Regions from separate parts of the Homo sapiens genome. Here region 1 is linked to region 2. Evidence: fine-mapped expression QTL. A gene starts in region 2. The other region holds a variant in brackets. All regions are shown on one strand. Distances are between the middles of the regions.

Region 1 (5,385 bases), 160 kb after region 2:
AAACAAGATTTTCTGAAATGAAGCCTGTTAATTATATCAGATCCTTTGGTTTTATGTGGAACTATTATCATGTCATGAATTGGGAACCGTTTGAACAAAATACTGATTTGGAAAACTCTTTATCTCAAATTTTGCTTGAAACCCATGACATCTAATGGAAAGGGCATGGTGAGAGGCAACACTAAATTTCTAAGCTGAACTCTTTTCCTAAACATCCCTCAGTGATCATTCTCTTGTATGAGTAGATCCCAACAAGGGTAGGGATTGGTTAGTTTCAGGGCATCTTATCTAAACATTCGTCTAGGGGCAGGTCTATGCTGGTTAGACACATAGAAATCAAAATTATCAACACAGTGATGACAATGTAATTGGCCATATCTATCAGCAACTTATAATCAACCATATCTAAGGCTGCTGAAAGGTACACCCTGGTAAAAATTCTGGCTCTACCTTTGACTTTCATTACTGACCCTAAGGATTTTGGACTGAAGTCTGTAAGTGAGCTTGAATTCAACCTGGAATCTGCTTTGACCTTGTAGGTAAATAGTGTGCAAAGTTAGGAAATTAGAACAAAATAAAATTTACTTTACAGCTAGGATAAATTGTGATAAAATGAGAAATTGGCAGCAAGAAGTTTTAGTGAATAGGACCCTCAAAGGAAACTTAAACAATGTTGAAGTGATGTTTGCTGCCATCAGACAGCACACACACACAAAAAACTATGTCTAAACTGTTAAAGTGGATTTTATGTAAATTGTTCATGATAAACATTTGCATTATATATTCCTATTCCTTTGTACTTCCCATTTGATGAAGTTTTCAAACTGTGGTTTGCTGGAGGGGAAAAAGAAAACCCAAATCCAAACCACATAGGACAAATTGAATTACAAACCTGGTGTGGTCCCTTAACTCAATTACATCTAATTTGTGTTATTTTAGTCATCCTGGGTGGCAGCTGTTCTGAGTAAATGCCCACAAACATTTTCAATGTAAGAATTTGTCCTGATTACAGCTCTTTAAGATCAGTAGTAGCCTATTTATATTTTAAGTGGCAAAGTTTTAGATTAATTTGGTGTATCAGGACCATTTTAAAAATTCAAAATTTAGTTGTTTCACAAATAGACATTTAAAAAGCAAGCATCCAATGTTTATTTTAAATGTTAATTTTTGTAACTTCACCTCATTTTCTTATTTCTTATGTTTCTACTTATGTTTCTTCTAAACATAGCCACTTAATTACTTTATTCAGGCATTTATCAACTTGCATATACAAGGGAATATGGAATTTTAGATTCAGATAAATGCTTTGACATTCCAAGTCAAAATTTGAGATGATCTGGGAAGAAAAACATGAAATAATATGGGTTCAGGATTGTTCAGTTCAATATAATTAAAACGGAGGTTTGTGTTAGAACTAAGTTAAGATTGAATATTAAATACAAAAGAAATGAAGACCTTGAAACTCATGAAAGTCTTGTGGAAGGACCTTGACTAGTGTTCTAAGGTAGACAAATGGGACCAGGCTAAATTTTAGGGAATTACAATGAAGAGATACTATCCAGCAGAGACAGTAATGAAAGAAAACTCCTATTACTTCAAAAATGATAGATGGTACATGAATATGTTTAAAAGCCATTGTTTTTCTACTAAATTCAGTAACTTTCAGTTAGCAACTGAATATCTTTTATGGACTAGATATTGATCTATGTACTGAGACTTCAAAGATGAATAAACTAAAGGTTCCTACTTTGGAGGAACTTATACTGTAGTTAGGATGGGGAACATGTAAATAATTTATAGCAACATATGGTAGGTGATATGATAAAGGTTTGAATAAATTCAAAGCTTTTTCTTTTGTCATAAGGAGGGTATAGGCCTAAAGTTAGGGTATTAGATCAAAACAAGTGAAATTTTTGTTTAAACTTACTACAGTACATGAGACTTATACTTCACTAGATATTTAATCAGTTAATGGTCGACCCATAGACTTAGGAATATAAATTGTTTAAATTTGAGGTGTTTATCAGTTGTGTACACTTTTTCCCTACTCATTCTCTTTTTATGGAAAAAACAATTTGGTAATCAATTATGATATGTATTTTCTTGTATATCTCTTATAATTTTTAATTAGTTGTGAACTGTATCAACTTTAATAACATTTTAAAAGATGTTCATCATCCTATATTCCTCTTTTATATGTGATACTGACTACTAATCTACTATTTATTTTTGAAATTATTTTTGGTCTTCAGTGGTAGTGTGCTTTTTTTGGTTTCTCTCCCACTTTTGGAGAGTTGATATCTGCTTTGCTGGCTTCACATCTGTATTAGTTATCAATTGCCATAACAAATTACCCTAAAACTTAGCCGCTTTAAACAATGAACATTTATTACCTAATGGTTTCTGTGGGCTAGTAATATCGTATCTGTCTTATTCACATGTGAATGATGAACATTCAGACATCCGATAAATATTATTGAATGGTGCACAAATGAATGCTGTTATTCAAGTTGAGGTTCTTATCACTTAGCACCTAATGGGCTCCACCATCTTCTTTGCTGGCTTCCAATCCTTACCCCCATGCTGTTTGTAAAACCACCCTTTCAAAAGAAATTTATGCTGCTGCTTCCCTTATTAATAACCAGTTGTGACTCTCATTGGCCTAATCAAATTTCTGTTGGTCTCCTTGGCATTCAAAGCCTTCCATAAACCAGCCTTATCATATTTATTCAACCATAAACCTTAACAGATATACCTATTTTACTTAAACTGGTTGTTTATACTTTAGACCTGTTAAAAGACAATCCTTAACCAAATTAAATATAACTCAGTTTAATTGAGCAAATCTGGCGGCTTCTTGAACCCGAGTAGTCTGAGAGAGACTCCATTGCAGCCACGTGCTGGAAGATTTATGGACAGAAAAAGGAAAGTGA[C/T]GTACAGAAAACAAAATAGAGGTACAGAAACAGCTGGATTGGTTACAGCTCCGCATTTGCCTTATTTGAACGTAGTTTGAACAGTTGGCCCCCTTTGGCCAAAACTCAGTGATTGTCACAAGAGCAGATTACAGTCTGTTTACACATCCTTTTAGATTATAGTTCACACTGTGTAGAGAAACCTTTAGGCTGAATTTAAAATATGTAAGGAGGCAGCTTTAGGGTAAACTTGATTTAACAGACCAAACCTTATCCCCATCCCTAATATCATGTTCAGTTTTACTTTCTTACCTTTATTAATGCTTTATTCCCTCATCTGTAATGCTTATATTCCTTGCTTTTTCAAATGTTGTTGATTCTTGTTCTCCACTCAAATTCTTTATGTTTCTTGCACCTCTTTCATAAACCCAGTTTGGACTTTTCTGGCCCACTCCAGTTGTTTTTGTTTTCGCTTGATTTTTTTTTTTTTGGTTGTTGTTGTTTGTGTTTTGAGACAAGGTCTCACTCTGCTGTCCAGGCTGGAGTGCAGTGGCGTGATTATGGCTCACTGCAGCCTGGACCTCCTGGGCTCAAGCAATCTTCGTGCCTCAGCCTCCTGAGTAGCTGGGACCACAGATGCATGCTACCTTGCCAAGATAATTTTTAAAAATTTTCGTAGTGATGGGGTCTCCCTATGTTGCCCAGGCTGGTCTTGAGCTCCTGGGCTCAAGCGATCCTCTCATGTTGGCCTCCCAGCATGCTGGAATTACAGGTGTGAGCCACTCCACTTGGCTCAACTCTAGTTTTTTGTTTTTTGTTTTTTAATTTTATTTTATATATTTTTATTATTATTATACTTTAAGTTTTAGGATACATGTGCACAACGTGCAGGTTTGTTACATATGTATACATGTGCCATGTTGGTGTGCTGCACCCATTAACTCGTCGGATTAAAGACTTACATATTAGACCTAAAACCATAAAAACCCTAGAAGAAAACCTAGGCAATACAATTCAGGACATAGGCATGGGCAAGGACTTCATGTCTAAAACACCAAAAGCAATGGCAACAAAAGCCAAAATTGACAAATGGGATCTAATTAAACTAAAGAGCTTCTGCACAGCAAAAGAAACTACCATCAGAGTGAACAGGCATCGTACAGAATGGGAGAAAATTTTTGCAACCTACTCATCTGACAGAGGGCTAATATCCAGAATCTACAATGAACTCAAACAAATTTACAAGAAAAAAACAAACAACCTCATCAACAAGTGGGCGAAGGATATGAACAGACACTTCTCAAAAGAAGACATTTATGGAGCCAAAAAACACATGAAAAAATGCTCATCATCACTGGCCATCAGAGAAATGCAAATCAAAACCACAATGAGATACCATCTCACACCAGTTAGAATGGCAATCATTAAAAAGTCAGGAATCAACTCTAGTTTTTAATCTTTGAATTCTCGTTGCATTAACACTCAGTACCAAACAGTGCCTTTCTTTATTTTTAATTAGTTTAAGTGGGTGAATATGTCTTTCCAACTAGAATTCCAATTTTCTGACAGCAAAATCCTTTTACTTCTCGCATCTTTATTGTAGTGTGCTGTGAGTGTATCCTGGTTGATTGAAAAACTAGAAATGTTGATTCACCTGTATGTAAAAAATCCTTTTTGAGTGAATTTTAACTGCTAGAGACATTCATGAGGATGAGCTGGGACTGCAGGACAGTTTGGAACTACATTTTATTATTTTCCTGAAGAAACATTGCTGTATGAAGAGATTAACTTTAAAAAGTTCCCTCCGGCCAACTATCAGAATTGGCTTTTAGCCTTGAACTATCAAAGCAAAACTTTCAGTGTTGCCTAGAGCAGAACAGGTATTAAGTAGCAAGCAATTCAAGGTCTCTGATCCCTAGCCTGCTTCAGCTATGGGCCTGGCCAAGCCCTTTGGCAAAGATAAGTTGAATAAGGAATTTACTTTTATCTTCTCCCTCTTGGAAGTTTTATGGATTTGATTCACAAAGAAAGGGCAATAATTGAAATTTTGTGTTAGCTTCTTCTTGTTATTCACCAAGAAAAGTTAAAGTCAGGTAATGATATCAATCAAAATGTAAGTACACCTACTGCCTAAAAATAACATTGTGGTTAATTGTGTTCCATAATATTCTTGGCATACTTTGCACAAGCCCTGGAGAACAAAGCCTGAGAGCCCATGGGAAATAAAGCTCCAGTTCTTTCGGCCACTTTAAATTTAGTTCTGTGATCTTGATAAGATATCATTGTATTTACATTGTTAGTTTCTACCAGCATTCCCTTGTATCTTCTTTTATGGCTTTTTCTATTTCTGTGCCTTTTTGTTCCTCTTCCTTATTTTCCCCCTAAAGCCATAGGTAGAATGTTTGGTTTTAGAGTTTTATAAGAGGAGTATTTGACTTTTCCTTATAGCGATCTCAGATTTCATTAAGTTTGT
Region 2 (5,385 bases):
AAGAACTGTGACCCTGGATTTTTTTTTTTCTTCCACTCTCTTATCTCCTTAACATGTGAAGTCAACATTTATTGAACGCCAACCAGTGATGGTGTTTTGCCAGGCGCGGGGGATACCCGGAGCTAGGAGAACTGGGTTCTCCTCCATTATTATTCTATCTACTGGGCTCTTTTGTTCCGGAACTCTGCGGTCTGAATTTCCATATTCTTCTGCTTCACTCCATTCATTTATTTGCACATTTACCCTACAACTGTTAATTGAACGGTGTGCTAGGCTTTATTTTATTTTTTTAGAGACAGAGTCTCTCTGTCGCTGGAGTGCGGTGGTGTGATCTCGGCTCATGGCAGCCTCGAACTTCCTGGATCAAGTAATCCTTAAGCCTCAGCCTTCCTGTAGTAGCTGGGACTAGAGGCGCGCGCCACTACACCGGGCTTAGGCCCTATTCTCTAAGTTGAGTAAATGGAGGTCCTTCTTCTCAAGGGAGATGCAGGCCAAAAATTAGGAGACGGTGGGCTAAATTATAAGACAGAAGTATGCATAAGAGATCAGAGAGCAAAGAATGAGCAAAGGCTTTTTCGCAAACACAATAATCTGAAACCAAGTCTTTTGTTTTGAGACAGAGTCTCGCTCTGTCTCCCAGGCTGGAGTGCAATGGCGCGATCTCGGCTCGCTGCAACCTCCGTCTCCCGGGTTTAAGCGATTCTCCTGCCTCAGCCTCACTGTGTAGCTGGGATAAGCGATTCTTCTGCCTCAGCCTCACTGAGTAGCTGGGATTTACAGGCGCGCGCCACCACACCCGGCTAATTTTTGTATTTTTAATAGAGACAGGGGTTCACCATGTTGGCCAGGCTGGTCTCGAACTCCTGACCTCAGGCAATCCGCCCACCTCGGCCTCCCAAAGTTCTGGGATTACGGGCGTGAGCCACCGTTCCCAGCCTGAAACCAACTCTTGAAGTAACGGCTTACTAGGTTTGCTCACCACAGCTGCCTTACACCAAGCCTTTTGTTTGGTTTCCCTGGTGTGCTTTAATCACAGACTCTCAGCTTTCCTCACTATGTGTGTTTCAGGTTTAGTAATTTCATTCAGCATTTCCCAAACTATTTAATCACCAAAGGGTGGTGAAAAGAGCAAGTTAAAACAAACAAAACGTTTTCTTCCAAAAACTCTTCTGTGATTGGTGGATTGTCCTCGATTCCTGAGAAAAGTAACATGGCTTTCTGGCCCATTAAGGTTTTTTTTTTTTTTGAGGCAATGTCTGGCTCCTCTCACCTCAGCCTCCCAAGTAGCTGGGATCACAGGTGCCTGCCACCATGTCTGGCTAATTTTTGTATGTTTAGTAGAGGCGGGGTTTCGCCATGTTGGCCAGGCTGGTTTCGAAATCCTGAGCTCAAGTGATCTGCCTGCCTCAGCATTCCGAAGTGAAACCGCCTTTGCAAAATTATAACTGAGGAAATTATGACAGTGAAAGAAATCAGACCTAACCGACTCTATCTTGCTTCTAACCGTTAAGCTGTCCTTGTTCATTCCTGGGCGTAGGCTGAACTAACTTTGGGGAGGAATTCAGTTCATGGTTTGACTCTGAAACAAAATTGATAACAGCCCTTTCCGAAAAGACCCACTTCTTGCCTGGGGACCAGTCTGCCTTTGCAGGACTAACAAATTAGCTACAAGTTTAGAAATTACAGTTTAGAGGTCATGCAGCCTCTGGCTCCAAGAGTCTGAACCTCCCCAAATTGCTCCCGGGGGTGACATCACTATTGCAAGCCCTAAGATCAGTGCTTGAGATATTTTGTAGACCCTGCACTCCATGGATCAGCTGACACCACTCAGACCAGTAATTTGGCGCAACCAGTTTTGCCATCACACCCAGGAACAGAAGACATTAAGAAAACCTCACTTCGACCCCTTATGATTCCATCTCCAACCTGACCAATCAGCACTCCCCACTTCCTAAGCCCCTACCAGCCAAATTATTGGTAAAAACTCCGATCCGCAAATGCTCGGGACAACTGATTTAAGTAACAATAAAACTTCAGTCTTCCGCACAGCTGGCTCTGCGTGAATTACTCTTTCTGCATTGCAATTCCCCTGTCCTGATAAATCGGTTCTGTCTAGGCAGCTGGTAAGGTGAACCCATCGGGCAGTTTCAAAAGTGCTGGGATTACAGGCATGAGCCACCGCGCCCAGCCTATTTTTTGTATTTTTTTGTAGAGGCGGAGGGGTGGGGGAGGGTGTCTCACTATGTTGCCAAGGCTAGTCTCGAACTCCCAGGCTCAAGTGATCCTCCCGCCTCGGTCTCCCAAAGTGCTGAAATTACGGGCGTGAGCCACTGCGTCTGGCCCCTTTAAGCCATTGTGAAAAGTGATGATACACGAAAAAAAAGATTTCCAGGGCCGAGAGCGGTGGATCACGCCTGTAATCCCAGCGCTTTGGGAGGCCGAAGCGGGCGGATCACGAGGTCAGGAAATCGAGACCATCCTGGCTAACACGGTGAAACCCCGTCTCTACTAAAAATACAAAAAAATTAGCCGGGCGTGGTGGTGGGAGCCTGTAGTCCCAGCTACTAGGGAGGTTGAGGCAGGAGAATGGCGTGAACCCAGGAGGCGGAGCTTGCAGTGAGCCGAGATCGCGCCACTGCACTCCAGCCTGGGCGACAGAGCGAGACCCCGTCTCAAAAAAAAAAAAAAAGAAAGAAAAAAGAAAAATTTCCAAACAGGGTGTTCCCTTGTTTCACATTCTCTTTGGTGATGGTCCTGCAACAGATTTTGATAATCACTATATTGAGAAACTGCTTCAGATTCGATCTGTTAGGCTGATCATAGTATTAACTACAATTCCCAGCAAGCCGCGGAGCCAACCTGGGCCTCTGCCGGCCTCTGATTGGATACAGTAGCCAGAATGACGACTCAATCAGTGCTTCGGTTGTTGCTTTGCGGCGTTTTCCGCGGGGAAACTGTGTAAAGGGTGGGGAAACTTGAAAGTTGGATGCTGCAGACCCGGTACTGGAAAGTTTCATGTGGGGTGCCGTTGTGGGGAAGTGGGGTTCGCTCATTATTTCCTGCTCCTTCCCTAGGCTCGTGGGTTTCGATATTGGGGGAGCGGAGATTTTCTCTTGGGTGCTGGTCACGCCCCCTTAAGACTCGGGATCGTCACTAAGAACCCCGCTGTGAATTGGGGGAGCTTCGGGCCTTCTTTTGGTGGGGAATGCTTGGAAGCTGCTCATTGTTGGAAAAAGCTCTTTTTAGGGGATTCTGGGTGATGTTTCCGCCTGTTGCTGCCCATCTTCCTCCCCAGCCCCTTCCCGCTTCGGGCAGCCTGTCATTAGGGGAAGTTGAGGGACTCTCCCACTTCAGGTGGTGTTGGAGAGCGTGGAATCTGGAGTCCGGTCCCTGGATTCGAATGCGAGCTTCACACCAATTGTCAGCTGTTTAACTTTGCCCAAGTTTCTCAACTAGTTACCTCAGTATCCTTATCTGTAAAGTGAGGTAAAATATCCGAAGCCTTTGGAACAGTGTGGCACGTAATAAGGGCTCAATAAATATTAGCTAATATTGTTCCTAAACAGTTGTTGAACATCTAACATGAAGAATTTTCTTTTCTTGGTGGTAAGGAGGACAGGGTTCATTCTCCAGGGTTGACCGTCTCCCCTCATGTGCAATACACATACGTGCTTTCGCGCACACATACACCGCAGGAATTTACGTGCTCCGGTGGGGGCAAACAAACTTGCAAGCCATAATAGTATTTTGATAAGATTATCGAATAGATATGTGCGAAGTTGATGAGAACATTGGAGAGGAAAAGACTTGACTCTGGGGAAGGTTTTGTGGAGGGAAGTCAGGGAGACAGGATGCGTGACCTACCAATACACATACCATGTGGCTGGAGGGCAGATCATGTGAGAGTCATTAAATGATGATTGCTGACCTTAAGTACTATGTGCCACGCACTCCCCGAGTCCTTTAACCTCCACTACAGTCATATGAAGTAGTAAATTCATATGACTGTAAAACAAGGGTTTTAAGGAAATTAAGACACTGAGAGGTGAAGTAACTGCCAGGAAGGATAGGAACTGAACGTTGCAATGTGATGTATGAGTGAGAAGGAAGTGAGGGACCAATTTTTGATGTTTTTCTCTGCGACCCTAAGAAGTTTGGAATTTATCCTGTGGTCTACCAGTCCCATGGGAAGTGTTAAAGGATAATCGTGACTTTTTAGGAAGCTACTCAAGGCAGGATTGTGACACTGATCTGACTTTTGCAGGCGAATTTGGGGCTTCTTCCTGTCTGCTTCCATAGCACTTTTAAATAGCAATTGTAATGCTTACTGCATGGCTGTAGTTATTTGTGTGTACCTCTCTTTTCATCTCAACTATGAGTATTCAAAGGGGAGGGAATATGCTTAAATGATTCTTGTACCCCAGACCTCAGCAGGGTGTGTATTTAAATGCCTGTGGAAGGAGTAAATTAAGGAACAAATGAATGGAGTGGCCAGAAACAATATGCAATAGTCCAGGCAAGTGATGGGAGTGGCCCTATTAAGGCAGAAATGGCAGAATTGGTTGTTGTTAAAGTCCTTGTAGTTTAGAATTTATAGTTTTTTGTTTGTTTGTTTTTTGTTTTTGATAGGGTCTCAGTCTGTTCCCCAGGCTAGAGTGCAGTGGCATGACCACAGCTCACTGCAGGCTCGACCTCCTGGGCTCAGGTGATCCTCTCATCTCAGCCTCCTGGGTAGCTAGGACTACTACAGGTGTGCGGCACAATGCCCAGCTAATTTTTGTATTTTTTTGTGGAGACAGGTTCTCTCTATGTTGCCCAGGCTGGTCTCAAACTCCTGGGCTCAAGCAATTTGCCTGCCTTAGCCTCCCAAAGTGCTGGGATTGTAGGCGTGAGCTACCTTGTGTGGCCTATGGTTCTTTTCTTTCTCCTTCTTTTTTTTTTTAAATTGAATTTATCAGTCTAAATGGTGTCATTACTTGAAACTACCTGATCTGAAAAGACACTAGGCAATATTATAGCAGGTATCACTTGGTTTTCTACTGGGGGAAACAAGTCATTGCTAACAAATTCCCATGGAGAGAAATGAGGAGGATGTATTTTTGTTTGTGAGAGGTGTGTATGTATGTATATTGTGTGTGCGTGTGTGTGTGTGTGAGAGAGAGAGATTGATTCAGTCTGATTCAGAGAATTTAGGTGTTAAATAGAAATTTGGGCCATGGTATTGGAAATAAACAAATATATACATTCTCAGTATACATATATTTTCATTCCAAAATGTTACTTCTTTTCTGATAACTATATTGCTTTATTCCTTGGATCCATGAAGAGTTCCTGTTTCAGTTCGTTCCAGAGGATACTTCTTTACCATCTCAATGAGATATACAG

Evidence for each region.
Region 1: its variant is fine-mapped to the expression of RAD51B in whole blood (TOPMed, PIP above 0.99).

The regions. Positions count from the first base shown.
Region 1 is chr14:67,972,712-67,978,096 of GRCh38, forward strand. The region is part of intron 7 of RAD51B (RAD51 paralog B); the gene reads left to right. Among named protein-coding and RNA genes, the nearest start is that of RAD51B, 160 kb to the left of the region's middle. The variant C/T (reference allele first, on the strand shown) is at 2,934.
Region 2 is chr14:67,816,854-67,822,238 of GRCh38, forward strand. RAD51B (RAD51 paralog B) reads left to right here and starts at 2,926. Exons shown (of 11, transcript NM_133510.4): 1 at 2,926-3,000. RefSeq lists enhancers at 1-118, 169-268, 2,759-3,053, 3,313-4,074.